Regions from separate parts of the Homo sapiens genome. Here region 1 is linked to region 2. The links come from fine-mapping of genetic effects on gene expression. Tissue or cell type: whole blood. Region 2 holds a variant in brackets; the other region holds the start of a gene. All regions are shown on one strand. Distances are from middle to middle.

What was found. PIP is the estimated chance that this variant, and not a neighbour inherited with it, causes the effect.
Region 1: it holds the start of MAN2C1, and the variant in region 2 is fine-mapped to the expression of MAN2C1 in whole blood (TOPMed, PIP above 0.99). The same link has a PIP of 0.9 or more in blood mononuclear cells.

The regions. Positions count from the first base shown.
Region 1 is chr15:75,364,512-75,371,046 of GRCh38, reverse strand. MAN2C1 (mannosidase alpha class 2C member 1) reads left to right here and starts at 2,440. Exons shown (of 26, transcript NM_006715.4): 1 at 2,440-2,564; 2 at 2,849-2,974; 3 at 3,413-3,536; 4 at 4,455-4,525; 5 at 6,382-6,535. The coding sequence starts at 2,464. SIN3A (SIN3 transcription regulator family member A) reads left to right here. Exons shown (of 21, transcript NM_001145358.2): 21 at 1-1,668. RefSeq lists enhancers at 2,265-2,559, 2,244-2,563, 2,135-2,667 and a silencer at 2,694-2,773.
Region 2 is chr15:75,442,842-75,447,841 of GRCh38, reverse strand. The region is part of intron 1 of SIN3A (SIN3 transcription regulator family member A); the gene reads left to right. Among named protein-coding and RNA genes, the nearest start is that of SIN3A, 6.3 kb to the left of the region's middle. The variant A/G (reference allele first, on the strand shown) is at 2,896.

The DNA.
Region 1 (6,535 bases), 78 kb after region 2:
TTTACCAAAGGGAGTTACCATTGTAGTACTTTTGTGTAAAACTTGTCTTCCCCTTTGCCCCCAACTTTTTTTTTTTTTTTTTTGTAAATAAATAAAGCTTGGTTCTTACTTAAGGAATAAACTCTCAACCCACGTCCCTTGTCCTCACCAGAAAATACTGTGAAGCAGGGATTTTGACTTCAGTTCCTTATCCAGGGTAGAAACAGGATTTTGCTTAAAATACTTGTTACTTGTCCCAAATCAAAATATTCCAAAATCTTAGAATACTTAAGTCTTTTAGTACGTGTTTTTTTCCCTTGTTCAAATAATCTGAAAATATTTTATATTTGGGTAAGTTGTCAAGCTATGTAGTTTGTATTTCTATATATTTTTTCTTATTCACATTGGTGATGGATGGGGGTGAGCAACTTAAATACCAAACCAGTGTTTGAAAAAAAAGTGTGCATAAGGCATGTGGTATACCTTATAAATGGAGTTGGGAGGGAGAGAATTTGAAATGGGATACCTATTTTTTTAATTACATAAATTTAAACTAGCAGACATTTAAACATGAATGATTAGGATTTTTCTATGTGGTTAACCTGGACTTTCTGAACAAAGACCAACTGAGCCCCTCCCAGTACTCTGGTGGATTTTTCTTCAGCAACCATTACGCAAGTCTTAGTTGTAACCAGCAATGTTCTGTGTGTTTTATGTTTGCTTTTTAGTTAAAAATCACCACCACCACCAAAAAGAAAAACAAAATTTTTTGGCTCCTGGATTTTCAAAACACATGGTAGACCTCTCTGATTTTAGGCTTTTATTGTTTAAAGACAGTGTCTCGCTTTATGACCCACACTGGAGTGCAGTGCCACGATCATAGCTCACTGCAGGCTTGACCTCCCAGGCTCAAGCAGTCCTCCCACCTCGGCCTCCTGAGTAGCTGCATGCCACCACGCCCAGCTAATTTTTTAACTTTTTGTAGAGACAGGGTCTTGCTATGCTGCCCAGGTTGGTCTCAAACTCCTGGCCTCAAGCTGTCCTCCCACCTCGGCCTCGCAAAGTGCTGAGATTACAGGTGTGAGCCACCCTGGCCTGATTTTAGGCTTTTTTTGTACTGGGGAGAAGAGACTGTGAGCCAAAGTGTAGGGTGCCAAAAAGAGCTTTGTGGGATGAGATTTTAGGGCAAAGCTGGGGCAGTGTCTGACTTGGCGGTGGTCATGTGTACTGATTTAGGGGAAAGATCTTGAGGTTTTCTCAAATAATTCACCTATCCCCGTGTTCCCTCAAGAAAGGTCATGTTGACCTGGAACCATAGGGGAAATTGGTGGGGTGTGATCAGGGTCAGCCCCAGCTGTTGCTGCCCCTGCAGTGTTTTGTCCAGAGCACTTGCCTGCAGGTCAGGATAGGATTTCAAGGCCAGTTCAGGAGAAAGTCCCAACCCACCAGTGCAACCAACAAAAGAGTAAGTTTTACCTACAGCCTGGGTTTTCACAAGTAGCATTTTTATTCCTCCTGCTGTCTGACATCTGAGCTCCAAGCTCTAAACCCAACCTGTATTATATGCAGCAGCAGGTTATCTTTGTTTTAAATCACATTTGTTATTCTGTACTTAGTCACCTTTCCGTGTGATCTGCATTTGAAATGTTGTAAACTTGGTCAGTATTTCCATTAAAATATCAGGGCTAATCTTGTGTATTTTTTTTTGTTCCTAATGATTTTATAGACAAAGACTCTTGGCAACCCCAGGAGAAAAAAAATAAAGCTGTCAGTGGAGTACTAGGGATGAGAATGAAACTGGAGGTCTGTTTCTGGTATTATGGCTTCCCGGGACTCTACAGTCCTGTATGGTGAAATACATTTTTCCATTGGGATCGTCAATGCCATGACTGTTCTGCCACCTCAAACTCCAGAGTTTCTGGTGATGTGCAAGAGTTAGCAATATACATTCAGTAAAGCGTGTAATCGAGTAAGTCGTAGTAACTTGGGCGTAAAGCTCTACCACCCTGCTCACTAACACCCTGATCTCCGTCCGGTATGAAAACACCTATTCCGGGTAGTCTGGCTCCACGTTAAGCAAACACCACTTTCCGTGTTCACCGACAGCTAGAGCCAGAGGTCTCCCGGTTGCTGCTTCTGAGGCTGGGTCTGCAGCAGCTGAGGCTCCCGCCTGTCTTGCCGAATGGCCTAAGTCTCTGTCTTGAGACTTTCGAGAGTTCTAATCGTCAAATTTCCCATTTTATTTTGAGATTTTCCCTGCGGCCCACTATTTCGGACAACATAGGAGAGCCTCAAAAACAGTTTCTAGCTTCCAACTCGGCTCAAAGTTCAGACAGCAGCTGGGCTTCCGAGAGCCGCCGGTGTTCCAAGAAAAGCTGCCCGGGACTGGGAGGCGCCCTCTGGACGCCGGAACCTTTGGTTTCCTGCCGTGGAGCGGAACGGTAGCGCCAGGGGCCTTCCGGAAAGAGGAGCGAGAGCCCGGCGATGGCGGCTGCGCCGGCCTTGAAGCACTGGCGCACCACGCTGGAGCGGGTGGAGAAGTTCGTGTCGCCGCTCTACTTTACCGACTGTAACCTCCGCGGCAGGTGTGGCCCCTGGTCCCCCGCAGCCGGCCGACCGCAACCGTGCGCCTCAAGCTTTCCTTCCGGGGAGAAACCTAAGCTGCAGCCACCCGGGCCGCGGGACAAAGTGCCCGCCGCGGGCAGGGCAGGGGCCGGGGAGGAGGGGGTAGGGAATGGACTGTGCCGCGGAGCGGCCAGGCAGCCCTCTTGGCGGAGGATCCAGGGAAAGTGCGGCCCCACCGGCCAGCTGGCCCCCAGGCGGAAACGGGGCGGCCTCCAGCATGTGCCCACCGGCCCGTCCCACGCAGGCTTTTTGGGGCCAGCTGCCCTGTGGCTGTGCTCTCCAGCTTCCTGACGCCGGAGAGACTTCCCTACCAGGAGGCAGTCCAGCGGGACTTCCGCCCCGCGCAGGTCGGCGACAGCTTCGGACCCACGTAGGTAACGCCCAGCGGGTGGGCGGGGCCACAGGCCTAGGGGAAGTCCCAACCCAGCTCCCAGCCACACCTTCGTTGTCTGCCCTCTGCCGTAGACAACTACGTGGGATCGAGCAGCACCCTCTGCTGGGAGCAGCACCCTCTGCTGGGAACAGCTCTCTGGTCCCTGGGTCTTCAGGGGATGGTTTTCATTCCCACGTGGCCGCCTCTGGACATCCCTTAGGAAGGGCACCCTAGGGATCACGAACCTTTGACGCCTCTGCCTGTTTCCCTCATCTTGCTTCTCACCTTGTTGCTCCTTTCTTGTGACTCAAAGCTGAGTACCTTGTGACACTGCAGATGCTTGGAGAGTTTCAAGCCCCTGCCGACACTTTATCCAAGGAAGGATATCAGGATAGGACTTCTACCTCTAGGCCTATCACAACAGCTCTCTTGCAGATGGTGGACCTGCTGGTTCCGGGTGGAGCTGACCATCCCAGAGGCATGGGTGGGCCAGGAAGTTCACCTTTGCTGGGAAAGTGATGGAGAAGGTCTGGTGTGGCGTGATGGAGAACCTGTCCAGGTGAGGAACCCTGTCCTAGGGCCAGGTATGGCCACATTTCAGCCCTGAAATGACTACAGCCCTTCTTCTGTGGACTCTGGAGAAGCCACAGCTGAGTTGCTCTGCCCACAGGGTGGTATCAGGATTTCAGGACTAGGGAAGTTGCCACTTGGGCATCTGTGCAATTGGTCCTTAGTTTTTATTGTGTATAATACAAACTTATAGGAAAACATTTCAAACAGTTCTAGATAAAGTAATGGATCTCTCCTTATCACCCATCCCATTCCCCAGCTATAACCACTGTTAAGTGTCTTATTCATGCTCCACCCTTATCAGGTTTAGTCCTTATACTCCTATCTAGTAGGTCTTTATACCCATTTACAAATTAAGAAACAGATGTGTAGTTGACTCACTCAGGTTCACACAGCTTCTATTTCAAATTGGACTGACTCTCAATCTGGGGTTAAGACTGTTCTTCCTGGCTACAAGAAGGCAGAGACCATCCCTTCCTCCCTTCACTGGCTCAGCAAATATCTCCTGGTGTCCATTCTGGGCCATACCCTTAAGCACTAGGGTGTAGCAGGGAATGAGGCAAACCTGCCCCTGACTTCACGGAGTTTCTTTCCCGGTATTTATTTAGGGGTGCAGAGGCCACCAGAATCCACACTCAGGCTGCCTAACCCCTTCCCAGGGCCCTTCCCATAAGACCATGGGTTTGCCACTGGTAAACAGGGGCTATTTGACGGTCATGGTGCTGGCTGCCATGGGAGTTGGGGCATCTACTGCCAAGGGTCCCTGATTTGCCAATCTTGGCCCTGCTTGGGAGAGAGGACCCAGAGCTGGGAACCAGATGGAGGGGCCTGACTCCCCATGGCTTACACTTTACCTGAACTGTCCAAAAGCCTCAAGCCTTGTCTCTCTCACTCCCCTCCCTACTAGGGTTTAACCAAAGAGGGTGAGAAGACCAGCTATGTCCTGACTGACAGGCTGGGGGAAAGAGACCCCCGAAGGTGAGTCCCTGTGCCCTGGTTGACCAGTGCTGTCAGGGAGGGAGTACCAGTGAGCAAGGAGGAGCTGAGGCCCAGAGTGATCTCATAAGCCCGCCTCTGCTCTAGCACAATCATCCTCACATCTCATTGTTTGCTTTTAAAAGCATGATTTTTTCCTAACCATAAAAATAATGGGCTGGGTGCAGTGACCCACACTACCCTGGGAGGCTGAGTGGGAGGATCACCTGAGCCCAGGAGGATGAGGCTGCAGTGAGCCATGATCACACCGCTGCACTGCAGCCTGGGCAACAGAGTGAGACCTTGTCTCAAAAATAATAGCAATGTTTGCCTGTGGTAAATACAGGAAAGCACAAAGAAGTAAATAACTACCGTTATTCCACTCCCTAGAATAGAGATGAACATTATTAACATCTCAGCATTCATGTTCTTTTTTTTGAGACGAAGTCTCCCTCTGTCGCCGATGCTGGAGTACAGTAGCACGATCGCAGCTCACTGTACCTTCTGCCTCCCAGGTTCAAGCGATTCTCATGCCTCAGCTTCCCGAGTAGCAGGGATTACAGGTGTGTGCCACCACGTCCAGCTATTTTTTTTTTATTTTTGGTAGAGAAAGGGTTTCACCGTGTTGGCCAGGCTACTCTCAAATTCTTGACCTCAGGTTATCCGCCCCTCTCAGCTTCCCAAAATGCTGGAATTACAGGCGTGAGCCACCGCACCTGGCCCAGTATTCATGTTCTTGGTGTATCTTTCCGGCATAGTTTTTTTTGTTTTTTCGGGGGGGTTTTTTTGGATTTTTTTGAGACGGAGTTTCGCTTTTGTTACCCAGGCTGGAGTGCAATGGCACGATCTCGGCTCACTGCGACCGCCGCCTCCCAGGTTCAAGCAATTCTCCTGCCTCAGCCTCCCTACTAGCTGAGATTACAGGTGCCCACCACCATGCCCAGCTAATTTTTTGTATTTTTAGTAGAGACGGGGTTTGACTCTGTTGGCCAGGCTGGTCTCAAACTGCTGACCTCAGGCTATCCACTTGCCTGAGTCTCCCAAAGTGCTGGGATTACAGGAATGAGCCACCGTGCCCGGCTCATCCCGGTATAGTTTTTACTAGTTAAGATTGTATCCTGACTTCTTACATTCCATGTTATAACATGGACATTTTATGACACCATTAAAAACACTTCTTAGACATTATGAATGTATTTTATATAGATTGACACTGTTTCAGATGCTTTCAGACACTGGGAGTATGGTGGTGAATAAAATAGCCCTTGCCAACAAAGGGAGACAGATTCACTCATATAATTACAAAACTGAGGGCTCTGGAAGGAAATCCTGGGTACTCCACTGAGGAATTTGCTCTAGACTTAGCAGCGAAGTGGAGTCAGGAAGGCCTCCCTAAGGAAGTCGTGTTTGCTCTCTGAAGCCTAAGTATGGCATCACCACAGCCCAGCCTGTTCTCCAATGAATGGCCCGCCCATGTTGGCCGTGTTGGTTTTAGATCTTGGGTCTAAAAGTTTGAGCCTGGGAGATCCGAACATGATTTTAATATGCAAAGAGGGTTCCAAGACCAAGGCAGTGCTTTGCAAAGACAACTTTGGAAATATAAGACTAAACAGCAGCGTACTTTACATGGTTCCAAACTTTGCTACTTATTCTCTCTGACAGCAAGACATGGGATCCATCTGGTGTTTGTACCACAACCCTCCCACATGCACTCTTGTCACACTGTGGGATCCTCTGGGTAGTGGATCCTGGAAGCAGACAGGTTGGGCTCAGCTGGATGCCTCCTGGGTGCCCCTTCCCCAAGTCCCCGGAGTACTGTGCCAGTCCCTTAGCCTGAGGCTGTCTCCCCATCTTTGTAGCCTCACTCTCTATGTGGAAGTAGCCTGCAATGGGCTCCTGGGGGCCGGGAAGGGAAGCATGATTGCAGCCCCTGACCCTGAGAAGATGTTCCAGCTGAGCCGGGCTGAGCTAGCTGTGTTCCACCGGGATGTCCACATGCTCCTGGTGGATCTG
Region 2 (5,000 bases):
TGTTTTCCCTACCCACTTTTTGTCTTGTATGCTTGTATGTTACCCATATTTCTCAGCATGACAGTGGACCCTTCATGAGTCTTCTTGGTGTCCTCCAGGGCTAGGCTTGCTGACATATGGGCTATTGGAGGATATGCAGGTCCACATCCTTTATTTGCAGTTCTGAAATGCAAGAGTTTTTGTTTTTTGGTAAGTCTAGTTCCACAACTAGTTTTGGGGTACAGCCTGACCTGGGCTATCCTGCATGATGCAGAAATGTGACTGCTTGATTATGGGGAGCTACTCAGCCCTAGCTGGGAGAGAGAGATGATACAGTATATGTACCATATTACCTTTCTAAAATCCAAACAATGCTGATGACTCTAACGGGGATCTCTCCCTCTACCATAGACTAATATGTTTAGTGGCCCACTCAAGGTCTCCACTCGATGTCTCCTCTTGGATAACTAAGAGACATTGTTGACTCTTCTGTGTCTTTTTCATATGTGGTCCATCAGTAAATTTTACTGCTTTATATTCAAAATACTATCCAGAATTAGACCACTTAGGATCTGCATCTCCACTGCCCTAGTCAGTGCCTGTGCATCTCTAGCTTGGATTCTATTCTCCTTGTTTTGTTACTGCGGCTCTTAAATGTGTTCTCAACATAGCAACCCAAGTGATTCTTTTGAAACCTAAGTCATACCGTGTCACTTCTCTGCTTAAAACCATCCAGTGGCTTTCCATTTCAGTCTGAGTATTAAACCTGAGTCCTTATTTAGATATGTCTGTAATGAGCTGGGCGCGGTGGCCCATGCCTGTAATACCAGCACTTTGGGAGGCTGAGGCAGGCGGATCACGAGGTCAGGAGATTGAGACCATCCTGGCTAACATGGTCTCCACTAAAAAAAATACAAAAGAGTTAGCCGGGCATGGTGGCACACGCACCTGTAGTCCCAGCTACTCGGGAGGTTGAGGCAGGAGAATGGTGTGAACCCGGGAGGTGGAGCTTGCAGTGAGCCAAGATCGTGCCACTGCACTCTAGCCTGGGCGACAGAGCGAGACTGTCTCAAAAGAAAAAAAAAAGGATATGTCTGTAATTTCACCATTTTGGGAGCTCAAGTGGGAGGATCGTTTGAGTCCAGGAGTTTGAGACCAGCTTGGGCATCATAACAAGACCCTGTCTCTATAAAAAAATTAAAAATTAGCCAAGCATGCTGGCGCGTGCCTGTAGTCCCAGTTACTTGAGAGGCTGAGGCAGGAGGATTGCTTGAGCTCAGGAGCTTGAGGCTGCAGTGAGCCATGACTGTGCCACTGCACCCCAGCCTTGACGACAAAATGAGACCCTGTGTCAAAAAATAAAAAAACACCTGTAAGAACAAATCTGATGTACCCTCTGCCTGCCACCCTTATCCTAGTACCTCTCTGACTACATTTCTGACTAGTCCTTCTTTCGTTTTTCTTCAGCTACCCAGCCTTCATGCTGTTTTGGAACATGTCAAGCACATGTGAGCCCTCACAAAGACATGAGGGTCTTTGCGGTTGCTGTCCCCTCTGCCTAGAAGGCTTCCTCCACTAATTTCTGCATGACTAGCTCCCTCACTTCCTTTACTCAGAAGTTACCTTATCAGTAGGTATTATCTGACCATTCTTATCTACAATTTCAAAAACTCTTCCTTGCCTTTTGTTCTTGATACCTGTCACTGCCTACTATTCTAAATATTATACTTTGTCTATTGTGTCATCTTTCACTAAAATATAAGCTTCTTGAGGGAAGAGATTTTTGTTTACCGTTGTATCTCCAGCTCCTAAAACACCTGGTGCATAGTATGTGCTCAGTAGATATTAGAGAATGTATACATGAATGAATGATTTGGTTTCCACCACAGACAAGACAAAGCAGTATGCTGAGCATGGTAGAGGATACATAGATGGTTAAAGATGTTATGTGCCCATGTTTGTGTGGGAGCAGAAGAGCTAATGTGATAAAAGCAGTGTGAGATGTGAGTGACACTTCCACCTGTCCTTTCAAGAACTATCTCAAGTTCTATTCTTTGTAATGCTCTATTTTCTTTTCTTTCTTTCTTTTTTTTTTTTTTTTTTCTTTTTTTTGAGACAAGGTCTCACTGTGTTGCCCAGGCTAGAGTGCAGTGGTACTATCTCGGCTCATTGCACACACACACATACACACACCCAGCTTCAAGTGATTCTCCTGCCTCAGCCTCCCGAGCAGCTGGGATTACAGGCATGCGCCACTACACCCAGCTATTTATTTATTTATTTATTTATTTTGAGACGGAGTTTTGCTCTGTCTCCCAGGCTGGAGTGCAGTGGTGCAATCTCGGCTTGGCACAATCTCAGCTCACTGCAACCTCCACCTCCTGGGTTCAAGTGATTCTTCTGCCTTAGCCTCCCGAGTAGCTGGGATTACAGGCACCCACCACCATGCCTGGCTAATTTTTTTTTTTTTTTTTTTTTTTTTGAGACAGTGTCTCGCTCTGTCGCCCAGGCTGGAGTACAGTAGCGCGATCTCAGCTCACTGCAATCTCCCCTTCCCAGGTTCAAGCAGTTCTCCTGTCTCAGCCTCCTGAGTAGCTGGGATCACAGGCGCCACCACCATGCCTGGCTAATTTTTTGTATTTTTAGTAGAGACAGGGTTTTACCACGTTGACCAGCCTTGTCTTGAACTCCTGGCCTCAGGCAATCCACCTGCCTTGGCCTCCCGAAGTGCTGGGATTACAGGCATGAGCCACTGCACCTGGCCTTATAGATATTTTGAAAGATTATATTTCTTATATTAAATAGAGATAGGGTCTTACCATGTTGCTCAGGCTGGTCTTCCTGGACTCAAGCAATCCACCTGCCTCAGACACCCAAAGTGCTGAGATTACAGGTGTTAGCCACCATGCCTGGCCT[A/G]ATACTTAATTTTTAAAAAACTTTTTCTTTGGAAATAATTTTAGACTTCAAAGAGAGTTGCAAAAATAATACAAATAATAGCCCTATAATCTTCACCTAGATTCCCCAAGTGCATCTTTTAAAACCACAATACAGTGATCAAATCAGAAAATCAACATTGATAACAATTATTAATACATTTTGAATTTAACTAAATTTCTGTTCATTTTCTACCTACAGTAGTAAGAAATGTCTGGGTAACATCAGTGTCACCGAAGTCTGTATTGCCCAGATTGGTCTCAAACTCCTGGGCTCAAGCAGTCTGCCCACCTCGGCCTCCCAAAGTGCTGGGATTACAGGCCTGAGCCACTGCACCTGGTCTGGACTCAATTTTAGTTTTTGAGTTTTGCTTTTTTTTTTTAAAGCAGTACTAACTACTTGTAAAGATGTATATTTCATGACTTTTATTTATTGGAGGTCTTCAAAACAGCAAAGAGAAAATTTATTTTTATTTTTAATTTTATTTTTGAGATGCGGTCTTGTTCCATCCCCAGGCTGGAGTGCAGTAGCGCGATCTTGGCTCACTGCAACCTCCGCCTCCTGGGTTCAACTGGTTCTCCTGCCTCAACCTCCCGAGTAGCTGGGATTACAGGTGTGTACCACCATACCCAGCTAATTTTTGTATTTTTAGTAGAAATGGGGTTTCACCATATTGGCCAGGCTGGCCTCAAACTTCTTATCTCTCGAAGTGCTGCGATTACAGGCATGAGTCACCATGCCCAGCCTGAAAATTTATTTTTTTTCCAAAGGAATAAACTCATTTTAGCTATTACCACTTGTACATCGAAACAATGTTGTGGAGTTTTACTGATCTTATTTTTCCTGTATATTGAAATGTTTTGGTATTTCATCATCCTAGGAATTATTTCATCATTACTCATCAATTCTCAAATATGCTAAAGAGGACTAAAATAATATGACAAAGGGAGAATTATAGAATTGCTTAAAAGGATATGCAGTAGTGAAATAAATCATTAGTTTTACACTTCAGTTTTTAGAGATGGGGCCTCGCTTTGTTGCCCAGGCCGAAGGGCAGTGGTATGATCATAGCTCTCTGCAGCCTCAAACTTCTGGGCTCAAGTGATCATCCCTCCTAAGCATCCTCGGTAGCTGGGACTATAGGTGTGCACCGCAGCCCTTCAGTTTTCTTATTGCTTTTCCCAAAACTTACAGCAACTTTTTTTTTCTTTTTGGATACAGGGTCTCACTCTGTCACCCAGGCTGGAGTGCAGTGGCGCAATCTCAGTTCACTGCAACCTTCGCCTCCCAGACTCAAGCAATCTCACCTCAGCCCTCCAAGTAGCTGGGACTACAGGCATGTGCCACCACACCTGGCTAATTTTTGTATTTTTTTTGTAGAGAGAACGTTTCGCCATGTTGTCTAGGCTAGTCTCGAACTCCTGGGCTCAAACAATCCACCCACCTTAGCCTCCCAAAGTGCTGGGATTCCAGGCATGAGCCAGCATGCCCAGCCTACAGCATCTTTCAAGAAAGTATAAAAGAAGTTGGGAGATACCATCTTAAACATTATGTAAGATGTTAACATTTGGAGAATCTAGGTGAAGGAGTACATGGTAATTTTTATACTATTTTTCAACTTTTAAGCTTTCATTGGACATATTTAAAAATCCATAGTTTTTCATCTTCCTCCTATAATGGCAAAGAGAAGAAAACTGACTACAGAAGACATTTCAGAGGAACTAGTAGATGAATGCTGTGTGACAGTAGTACTCTAGACTGTTAGGATGACGGTAAAGTTATATAAACCAAGTTGTAAAATAAGAGTCTTCAGCCAGGCATGGTGGCGTGCACCTGTAATCCTAGCATCTCGGGAGGCTGAGATGGGAGGATCACTTGAGCCCAGTACTTCAAAACCAGGCTGGGCAACATAGCAAGATTCTGTCTCCACCCATATACATATGTGACTGTACCCTAGATGAGTTTAGAATGTGATTTTTTTTTTTTTTTTTTTTTTGAGACAGAGTTTTGCTCTTATTGCCCAGGCTAGAGTGCCATGGCACAATCTCGGCTCACCGCAACCTCCGCCTCCTGGGTTCAAGGGATTC